2 separate regions of the Homo sapiens genome follow, and region 2 is linked to region 1. Evidence: fine-mapped QTL for protein levels in blood plasma. A gene starts in region 1. The other region holds a variant in brackets. All regions are shown on one strand. Distances are between the middles of the regions.

Region 1 (5,387 bases):
TCTGTAATAATTCCCATAATTCTTAGATTTTTAATTCTTATTTTTATATTAAATGGATCAGTCACCAATACCAAGCTTTTTATAACATGGTTTCAGCATTCCTGAGTTTTGTACCCACACACTTTACATAGAGTAATAAGTCAAATTTTCTAAATTAATGAGATTAAAAGGTCTTATTAAAATAAATGTATGGAATCTAAATGTCTTTAAGAAGGTAACAGTTTCGAATTCTGACACAACAACAAAAAATCATGGTCACCATGATCTAGAATTCTGGCCCGATAACAATTATTTATTTACAGAAAATAAATTACATAGTAAGTCATAAATTCAGTCCAACAACTGGACTCAGCCTCCACTTAAATATAATCCATAATCTAATGTCAAAAACAATTTTAGAGTTAAACCAAAGAATCAGAAAGAATTATTGGCTGTAATGAACATCAAAAGATATATTTACTTCTAACAAGAATATATGGCCAGCTGATTGTTAATAAAACGGAAAAAAAATAAGGTAAGGAGGACGAGAAGCATTAGAGCTTTCCAATGTCTTCTGCATCCTGGGCATGTTATTTTTCTCAGTTCAACACACGTTTGAAGACCTATTATATTCTAAGCACTATGCTAGGTTCTGTAGACACAAAAATGATTAACTCTATTGTCAAAGGGCTTAGAATCACTTGTCTCTGAGGTTGAAAGCATTATTCTCACTCTTCATATACAGAAAACTGCAACTACGAGAAGTTTATTGCTGACGTTAAAAAGTGGCCCGGGGAGCTGGCTTTAAAACTAAGTGTTTCTGACTCAAAGAGACATTAGCCAAAGATGTCTTACCGGTTGAGAATCACTTACGATGCTAGTTAAAAATACAGATTCTCAGGTCCCTCTCCCTAGACACAGTGTTTCAAAAGATCTGAAATGAAGTCCAAGGAATCTCTGCTTTTGCAAATTATCACAGGGGATATTCATAATCAGGTGAAATTTGTTAAGAACACCACACATCTCACTGAAACGAAGTTTAAGCAAGTCTCTCAGACCAAGGTACAGGCAACTTTTTGTTTTCTTAAACTCTCTGGAGGGCGCAGAGTCACCTCCAAAAGTCCCAAATGAATCCCTTCACCCAGAGCAAAGAAGAATTTCTTCACCACATTTAAGTTTTTAAGATTTGACTTTTCCAGTTTTTGCCAATCCTCAGAGATCCAAACTATTGTCGCCTTATGCAATTCTCTGGCATCACAAGACAGCATCAAAAAACAACAGAGCACCACCCTTTCCCTCGTCTTCCTTCAGGTGCTGATTCATTTTGGATGTGCATCGCTAGGAAAAAGGGCTGCTGAATATAAATCGCAAAACTTCAATGGTGGATGACAACTTCTACACCCGTGAAGTTACACAGCTAGTTAATGGCGGGGCCAAGACCAGAATCTACACTTGCAGAACCTCTGCTCTGAGCTTTTCCCTACTCAACCTGACCTGTCCTGAAAGCGTAAGGGTGGCCTGGCCGCGCGTGTGGGACCGACCCGAGGAGGGACGAGAGACAGCAAAGAAGGCTGTGGTTCCTGCCCGGGAGGCGGGGGCTGCAGATTCCCCTCAGCTGCGCGTTTGCCTGGCCCTCACTTGGCAAAGGACAGCGAATGCAAATGAGGATGACTGTTAGGAATTTTTAACGAGTGTAGAGAGAGGTGTCAAGAAGAAGCCGCGAGAGAGGAGAGGGCAGGGACGCCTTCTCCCGTAGGCACAAATCCGGAGAGGACAACCAGGTCCGCGAGTGGCAATACGGGAGACCCCACGCGCCCCCAGCCTCGAGGTTCCTGAGCACCCATTCCGCCCCGGCCCGGCGTCCCAGTCTCAGCACAAAGGCCGCACAGGGCGAAGTTGCCGTCGGGTCCCCCGACCCGAGTCCCCTTCTTGGCGCCCCCGCCGCACCCCCCGCTAAACTTACCGGCAGACCCAATGGTTCTTCGATGCTGGAACAGCGGGAACAAGCAACACCCAACCACCCGAGAGCGACCCCAGCTGACCAGTGGAGCGCGAATCCCACGGACCCGGATGCAGATAAAGGCGCAGGAAGGAACCGCGGCGTGGCTGGCGGGCGCTGCGCATGCGCACCGCCTTTAGGACGCCTGAGGTGAGACGCGAGGAGTTCGGTCCGAGTGCGGTGCGGCTGGGCGCTCTTCTTGCCTGGAAGATCGCAGTTTCTGGGTCATCACTTTACGCTACTTTCCCCTCCCCCCCATCTTTCAAAGAGGGATTTGCAGTAGATTCTTTAGGCTTATGAGATTTAGTATGTAAGACCGTAGTGCTCACACGTACTTTGTTGCTTATGTTGCTGTTTGGCAACATGAATATATTTGCCATTTATGAATACATTTCTCTCTCTACTCCAAGCTATTGAATGCATATTTGCAAACGCAATGACAGATAAGCGTCTTGTGTCAAAAAACTCATCAAAGTTTGCAAAAGGGCAAACAGTACCATGGGAAATCGGGAGCGTCTCAGTAAGAGAAAACACTATATAATAGGGTACTGGCTTTTGCTGAATGAGTCTAAGAAAGGGATAGGGGAAGCTGGAATCAGCTTTGAGCTGGGTATCACAGATGTTTATACAGGAGTGGGAAGGAATTGGGCTGTGGAAATTATTGTAAAGAAAGCAGCTATCATTCAAAAGGAGAAAAGTGTGTTGTGTCTTCACCATGTTCCATCAGGAACACTGTTCCATTAATAACACCGTTTAGGGTTCTGTTAGGAACAATACAATCTTGACTCCTAGCCAACTTAAGGTTCTGTTTCTGTGGAAACTACAAGTTAAAAAAATGTAAAACGCTGTGTCCTCAAACTCGTTATATGAAGTTTTTCACCTGGGTTGTAAATCCAGCCTGCTTCTTTGAATGTAATGACTCCTCTTGCATCCTTTAGTGAAGAGTAGGATGTTACATTCTCGTTGATTTAGCTTCAAACAGCAACATTGCTCACATACTGATAATAGACAGGTTTATTAGTACTATCGCCTTCAGTAAGTTTGCAAAAGCGATTTTTGGCCAGATTCGGTGACTCACGCCTGTAATCCCAGCACTTTCAGAGGTCATGGTGCATGGATGGCTTGAACCCAGGAGTTGGAGACCAGCCTGGGCAACATAGCAAGACCCTGTCTCTCCAAAAAAGATTGAGGTAAAATGATGAAGTAGTTTGTAGGCTATGCATAGAATTTAGGCTTTGTATTGTAGGCAATAGGGAGTCACTTAAGCTTTATGAATTGAAGATAAGAGACTAGAACATACGTGTTTTAGAAAGAATGCTGTAGAAAGGTGGAGACTGAATTACAGTCTTGAATTACAGATATGTGCCACATAAGGAAGTTTAGGTAAAGAATGGACTGGATATTTGGCAATGGTCCCATAAGATTATAACAGAACTGAAAAATTCCTATCACCTAGCGACATTGTAGTAAACGTAAAGTTGTAGAGCAACACCACTCGTGTTTGTGGCTACATAGGTGTAAACCTACTGTGCTTCCAGTCTCATAAAAGTCTAGCACATACAATTATGTACAGGATATAATACTTGATAATAAATGACTATGTTACTGGTATATGTATTTGCTATATTATACTCTTTATCATTATTTTAGAGTGTATTCATTCTATTTCTATTTTTATTTTTATTTATTTGTTTATTTTTTTGAGACAGAGTCTCGCACTGTCACCCAGGCTGGAGTGCAATGGCACAATCTTGGCTCACTGCAACCTCTGCCTCCTGAGTTCAAGCAATTCTCCTGCCTCAGCCTCCTGAGTAGCTGGGATTACAGGCAGCTGCCACCACGCCCGTCTAATTTTGTTTTATTTTTAGTAGAGACGGGGTTTCACTTATTAGCCACGCTGGTCTCGAACTCCTGACCTCGTGATCTGCCTGCCTCGGCCTCCCAAAGTGCTGGGATTATAGGCGTGAGCCACCATGCTTGGCCCTATTTATATTTTTAAAAGTTAACTATAAAACAGCCTCAAGGAGGTCTTTCAGGAGGTATTCCAGAAGAAGGCATTGTTATTATAGATGAGAGCTCCATGTGCATTATTGCCCTGATGAACTTCCAGTGGGATAAGATGTGAAAGTGAAAGACAGGGAGATTGATAATCCTGACCTTGTGTAGGCCTAGGCTAACATGTGTGTTTGTGTCTTCATTTTAACAAAAAAATTTGAATAGGAAAAAAATTAAAAATAGATTTTAAAATAAAAAAACTTATAGAATAAGGATATAAAGAAACAAAATATTTTTGGACAGCTCTCCAATGTGTGTTTTAACCTTAACGTTGTTACTAGAGTCAAAAAGTTTTTTTTTTTTCTGAGACAGAGTCTCACTCTGTTGTCCAGGCTGGAATGCAGTGTCGCAATCTTGGCTGACTGCAAACTCTACCTCCCAGATTCAAGCAATTCTCCTGCCTCGGCCTCCCGAGTAGCTGGGACTACAGGCGCATGCCACCACACCCGGCTAATTTTTTGTGTTTTTAGTAGAGACGGGGTTTCACTGTGTTAGCCAGGATGGTCTCGATCTCCGGACCCCATGGTCCCCCCTCCTCAGCCTCCTATAGTGCTGGGATTACAGGCGTGAGCCACCACTCCCGGCCAAAAAGTTTTTTAAAAATTTAAATATAAAGTAAGAAAGCTACAGGAAATTAAATTTACTATTGAAGAAAAAAAACATCGTTTTATAAATTTAGTGTAGCCTAACTCTACATTGTTTATAAAATCTACAGTAGTGTACAGTAATGTCCTAGGTCTTCACATTCACTCACCACTCATTCACTGACTTACCCAGAGCACCCTCCAGTCCTGCAAGCTCCTTTCATGGTAAATGTCCTATACAGGTGTACTGTTAATATTTTTTAATTTTTATACTTTTTTTTTTACTATACCTTTTCTTTGTTTAGATATGCAAATATATACCATTGTGTTACATTGCTTACCGTATTCAGTAATATGCTGTACAGGTTTGTAGTCTAGGAGCAATAGGCTATACCATATATGTGTAGTTTGTGTATATATGCTAGGTTTGTGTGCATATACTGTATAACATTCACACTATAATGAAATCGTCTGAAGATGCATTTCTCAGAATGTATCCCCATAATTAAGTGATGCATGACTGTATGTTATGAAGACTCCAACACGGAACGACTCTGAGTGTACCTTGTATTTTTCCTACCCAGCCTTGGTATCAGGCATTTCACTAATAGCTGATAGTTGTTTTATTAATCAACAATGGATGTTGAATTTTGTCAAACACTTTCTATGTATCTATTGAAATGGTTGTATGGTTTTCCACTCTAATATGTTGGTGAATTCAATGTTGAGTGCACTTTTATTGCTGGAGAAAATTAGATTTGGTCATTGTT
Region 2 (5,387 bases), 25 kb before region 1:
TATATTTTGTTGCATGCAGTTTTTCTTTACGGACACTAAAAGGCCCCATACTTAAGATTCCATCTACTTTAAGTTTAAAGGATTTTCAGAATCACCTTAAGTGTCAAATTTGTTAGCAGGATTAATTGATATGAATTCACTTATTAAACAGTAAACTCAAATAACATAGACATCAAATAACAGACATCTGCTCTAGTTAATGATAAAATGTTTATAGATTTTATCAGGTGGTTAGTTTGAAACTAAATGGTTTACATCTAAATTAAGGGCAGGAGCTGTCTTTCAGACATTCAAAACGCATTTGTGTAAAATGACAGGTGTTTGGTATTACCAGGAACTCATAATGACATTTTAATAATTATTGTCTAAATTTCATAATCGAAGCGATTTTAGAGTAGTTAACTTGAGATTTCACAGCCAGTAAATGGCTGTATTTCTCCAGAGCTCTCAGCTCCCATGTTTATTCAGCCAACGAACAAACCAGACTGCAGACTGTATTAGAGCAAGACAACATCATTTAGCCATTGATTTTTATCTTCTACCTTGAATGAATTGAATGAAGAAAATGTCTTTTAGGGATAAACACTATCAAGGATGAATTTTATACTAAGGTTATATGAAAGAAAAATCTCAAAACCACTAAGCCAAAGGGAAGTCAAGCTGGGAACTGATTGAGGCAAACCTGCCTCCCATTTTATTCCTAAATAAGACAGCCACAAAGATAAAATTTGCTCACAAGGGAATTCCTTATGGACAAAGAACTCAAAGTCTTCACATGAAACAAATGCATAAATGATTGCTTTCTCTGTTTCATGTTTCACTAAGCCAGATTAAGGTATAACTGACTATTCCTCTACTCTCCTCTCACATGTAAATTGTATATTCAGTGAAAGGCTAATCAGAAACTCAAAAAAATGCAACCCTTTCTCTCTTACCTGCCTATGCTTGAAGCCCCCGCCCCTCTTCAAGTTGTCCTGCCTTTCAAGACCAATGTACACCTTACACATACTGATTGATGTCTCATGTCTCTCTAAAATGTGTAAAACCAAGCTGTGCCCCAACCACCTTGGGCACATGTGGTGAGGACCTCCTGAGGCTGTGTCATGGGCACACCTTAACCCTGGGAAAATAAACTTTCTAAACTGACTTGAGAGCTGTCTCAGATATTTTGAGCTTACAGTTATTGTGAAATCATTTTAATTATAAATTAAGTGGAGATTTACTTAAAATCATGTGTAGAAGTAGCCTGTGATATAGTCCTAGATACATACATTATCATCTTATGTATCTTCCCTCCCTCTTCCAGGTTCTGATAAAAACAGATGAAATCTGAAAGACCATGACAGTAGTATTTTGAAAATGACAGTATTTGAAATTAAAAAATTGTAAAAGTGTTCTGTTCTATCACTGCCAAAGGATAAGTTACAAATTGGTTCTTGGAACGTAATATGTACTATGTGCTTGCTATTTAATAATTTACCAGTCTTAGTCTTTTTTATTCAGACTAATTTTACCTTTTTTTAACCTATGACTCTTTAGTTATAGTAGTACAAAAAAGTAGTTTTAGTTATAGTTTTAGTTGTAGTACAAAAAAGCATTTTCTGTAAGCTTAATTTCTTTCCCCTTCCCGCTTTCCCAGTCAGATGACTTTAGTGATTTGGAGTTGTGTGCTTTATAAGTGCATTCCTCAGAGGACTTAATATTACTAAGATTTTAGCAAACACTGAAATATGTTTAAACACTGTTATCAATATTAAAATAGCACCGTTTATTGACTTTAATATGTGACAACCACTGTGCTGAGCTATGTATGCTTCCCTTATTCAATCTATGTAAAAATTTTGGGGAAGTAGCTGAGACTTTTTTATTTCCCTGACAGAGCTGGGATTCAGTGGTTGGTTTCTTGAAAAAGCTAGGTTCTTTGCCTAACAGCAGCTTAGCTCCTCAATTTAGGGAATGAAAGCAGGAATGAAAATGGCCAGAGTTTTCGCTCCTCAGCTTGTGGAGGAGCTTGAGTACATGAACCTCAACTAAGCCCCTAACATCAAGGGAAGGAAAATGGAAAGGAGAATTTTTAGACCTTTAAAGCAGAGAAATTACTGGTGAATCATGTAGCACAACAGGTACCTTTAGCTTTTTCACTGTGATGCTGTATGACTTTCTAAGGTAGTCAGCATAGTTTGTAGTAAATGATTCTTATTACTGGAAGTGTAAGTGGAGTGTTACTCACTAGTTATTTAAAAAACATTTATAAGGCTATTAAAACATCATCTGGAATTAAAGCAGCATAATTTACCCCATCCCCCACTTTTAACCATAAAACCCTATTACCAATTTTATTTCATTAATTTATTTGCTATTTTAATATTTTAAGAAACTACATTTTAATCACATAGACAAGCAGATAAGTAAGGCTTCTTCTACCAGGTGGGCTTATGAAATGCAAAATAAGCAAAAGGAGCATTTTTTTGCTCCCCACAGAGGCAAAGACATCTTTTAACCTAACTCTCCTAATGCATGATGGTAACAAACCCAAAATGAATGCAGGTTCACATGTACTATAATTGTTGGGAGTCGAATGCATGTATTCTTCAGGTTCACTTCTGGAAATTTAGATAACTTATTTATTACACGCTTTATTTGAGTTAAAGATAAAAAACAATATACTTTTATGTAAATTGCTATGGCAATGTAGTTTACAGTAATTCCTTTTATATATACTTCGTATTATTCTTTTAGACATTTTATAAGGAATAAAGCTAATTGTATATTAAGTTTAACAATAATCAGAAAATATTCTCCAAAAGAATTTCCTGAAGTGGCTTGCTAGGTATAAAGCTCATAATTGTCAAGATACTTATATTAGGGACATGAACCCAAGTCGTTAAATAAAAATAAGATATTTGTAAAAAAGTGCTATAGAAGAAGGTGCACAAAAAACATGCACTTACACATACTTTCCAAAAGGATGTAAACTGTACTTTTAGGCACTGTCATCTCTTCAAATTTCCTTTACCAATGATATATAGCACAATTTTTGATGTCTAGATGGTGCTGTAGGAAGATGACTAAGGCAACCACGTGCAGAAAAGCATGTGTGTGATGCACAGAAAATATAAAGATTGCATTCCAAAAGTGAAGGTCTGCA[A/G]TGATAGTTTGTTATCTGAAAGGTTTGGAGTGTCTTGTCATTAAAAAATGAAATATACGCCACTGGAGTCATATCACAAATGGTGCCTGATGTGGACACTCTACCTTTAAAATGACTTTTTAAACAGGCAGACATTTCTATGCTGTTTTATAGGTGGCTATGTGACTTCAGTACTTTATAATAAATAGCCAGTCAATCTTGAGAGCCAGCTACTTCTCTTAAACCCAAGTACAAGATATAAATATTCAAAATATGGAATGTTTAACATAGAGACTCGAATGAAAAAATGACAATCTTCAAAATTCCCCATGTTTTGTCATATTGCATAGCTGAAAATTCATCTACTACTTAGTAAAAAGTGCTCTGTTCATTCAAGCTGAATTTTGCTCCAGTCTCCTTCAGTTTCCATCTTTCATACTGAATAGTGGATCCACAAGTTTATTGTGCACATGCATTAGACCTTAAAGAAAAAAAGCACAGTTCTAGTTGTTTTTATTAATTTTGAACTATCTCATTTACTTTAGACAACAAAGTATTTTTTATAAGACACAGTAAGCCTGTTTAGTTCCCATCTTGATATAGTCAAGTTTATTGAAAAAGTACAAATAGAAATGTTTCAGAATGTCTTAAGTTTTATCTACCTAGCAAATACCAATTTATAATTATGTAACAGTGCAGATCTAGAATGTGTACAGGTACTTTGGGAGTAACCAGAAGAGCATTTCTTGTCTTCAAAGAGATTAAGCATGACAAATTTGAATACTGACTTAGATAATAGGTTTTAATTATATCTAAAAGTCTATGTTGATATTGATCCTCTGGCAGTTCCTCTACTAGACTCCAGCCAGGGGCTCAGAACTGCTGTCTCACTCTTAATACATTACCCTATCCATTCGTCTGGTAAATTACTTTCCAATAGTTTGGCATGTGTATTTATGACAAAGGTTGATTACAAATTCTACACTGAGGGAGGGTTACTAAAACAAGACAGAAAACAACCTGTATTAAATCATTTAATTCAGAATAGAAATTACGATTTTAAATCCGGTAGATTATAACTTTCATTTTGTAATTGGTACATATACTTGCAGACTGCTCTTAGCTATGGAAGCTGCTTGGGAAATAGCTGATCTTCCAGTTACTCCTGTTTTAATGCCTCAGTACTATATTTCTTTGGGGAGAAAAAAGTTCTAAAAAGACTGACCCAGTTAATGAACCAGAGATTTTATATTTTGGAGGGTAAAGAAATGAGTTAAGTTTTCCAGGTATTAAGAACATGGGAGGGTGGGGAAAGGCACTTAATGCGGTTTTGCAGGAAATGGGATTACTGGATTGGAGAGATAGGTTGCTTGTTAGTAAACAGATGTTCCTTGTCAGAAAGGCTGCAAAAAGGACTCTAAAATCCCAGCTTTGAGAAAGACCCACTTTTAAGGGACAAGCAAAGAGTACTGGGAAGTGTTTGTGTAGTAGGAGAAATTCTAACCATAAGAATGGGACTCTAAAGGAGGGAAGGGGGAAGCATTCCATTCACTAGTCCTGCAACTGCTCAACAGCCTACTTGAAGGTCACCTGAAACTTCATGTCCAGTAGGAGAGGGGACAACAAAGATAAGGGTAATATCAGCTGTATGATTTAGAAGATGCAACATTTTCCAGAGTATCACTTTGTAGAGGATCGTTTTTCTACTTAAATAGTATTCATCTGTCATTTGCTAACAACTTTGATTACGGAAAGAATACACAGAGCTTTAAAATACATGCAAATTAAAATATCAGTAAATATTAAAAATTCAACTCCTTTATAAAATTTTTTTCTTTACATTGGATATATCTTTTATACATCAAATAGGACTGCTTCCAAACTAGAAATAATTATTTTGAAAATTCTATTAATTGCTTTTTAGATATTAAGTCAAATATTTACTGTGACTTTAGGTAAAAACTGACAACTTTCTACATACGAATTTTATATAAATAAATAATTGCTACTTAAGTCAAACAGAAATAATTCTTCTGATAAAAATGCACCAGACTTCCTGAAACGTTACCAGAAGAAAGGTTAAATGTCACAGATTCTAACCAATGTCTATACAAAGTAACTTTTATGGTTTTGACTCAAAATGAACTCATTCTACCTTTGTCAAACTACTGAGGTGGAGCCTAAATACAAAGTAAGAGAAAAAAATTCATGATGATGATGTCATATACTAAAAATCAAAGCTGTTCTATTTAAAAAGCAA

Alleles and levels. Positions count from the first base shown, and alleles are read on the strand shown. Strength reflects both the effect of a copy and how common the allele is.
As copies of G replace A in region 2, the plasma level of the protein whose gene starts at base 2,025 in region 1 goes up (weak association).

The links. PIP is the posterior inclusion probability: the model's chance that the variant is causal. The UK Biobank Pharma Proteomics Project read protein levels with antibody pairs (Olink). The fine-mapping took linkage between variants from a reference panel, not from the people measured, so its PIPs are less certain.
Region 2: its variant is fine-mapped to the plasma level of the GNPDA2 protein (UK Biobank, PIP above 0.99).

The regions. Positions count from the first base shown.
Region 1 is chr4:44,724,532-44,729,918 of GRCh38, forward strand. It overlaps GNPDA2 (glucosamine-6-phosphate deaminase 2), which reads right to left and starts at 2,025. Exons shown (of 7, transcript NM_138335.3): 1 at 1,943-2,025. RefSeq lists a silencer at 1,441-1,735 and an enhancer at 2,228-2,357.
Region 2 is chr4:44,699,535-44,704,921 of GRCh38, forward strand. It overlaps GUF1 (GTP binding elongation factor GUF1), which reads left to right. Exons shown (of 17, transcript NM_021927.3): 17 at 1-1,394. It overlaps GNPDA2 (glucosamine-6-phosphate deaminase 2), which reads right to left. Exons shown (of 7, transcript NM_138335.3): 7 at 2,261-3,608. The coding sequence ends at 3,547. Among named protein-coding and RNA genes, the nearest start is that of GUF1, 24 kb to the left of the region's middle. The variant A/G (reference allele first, on the strand shown) is at 3,149.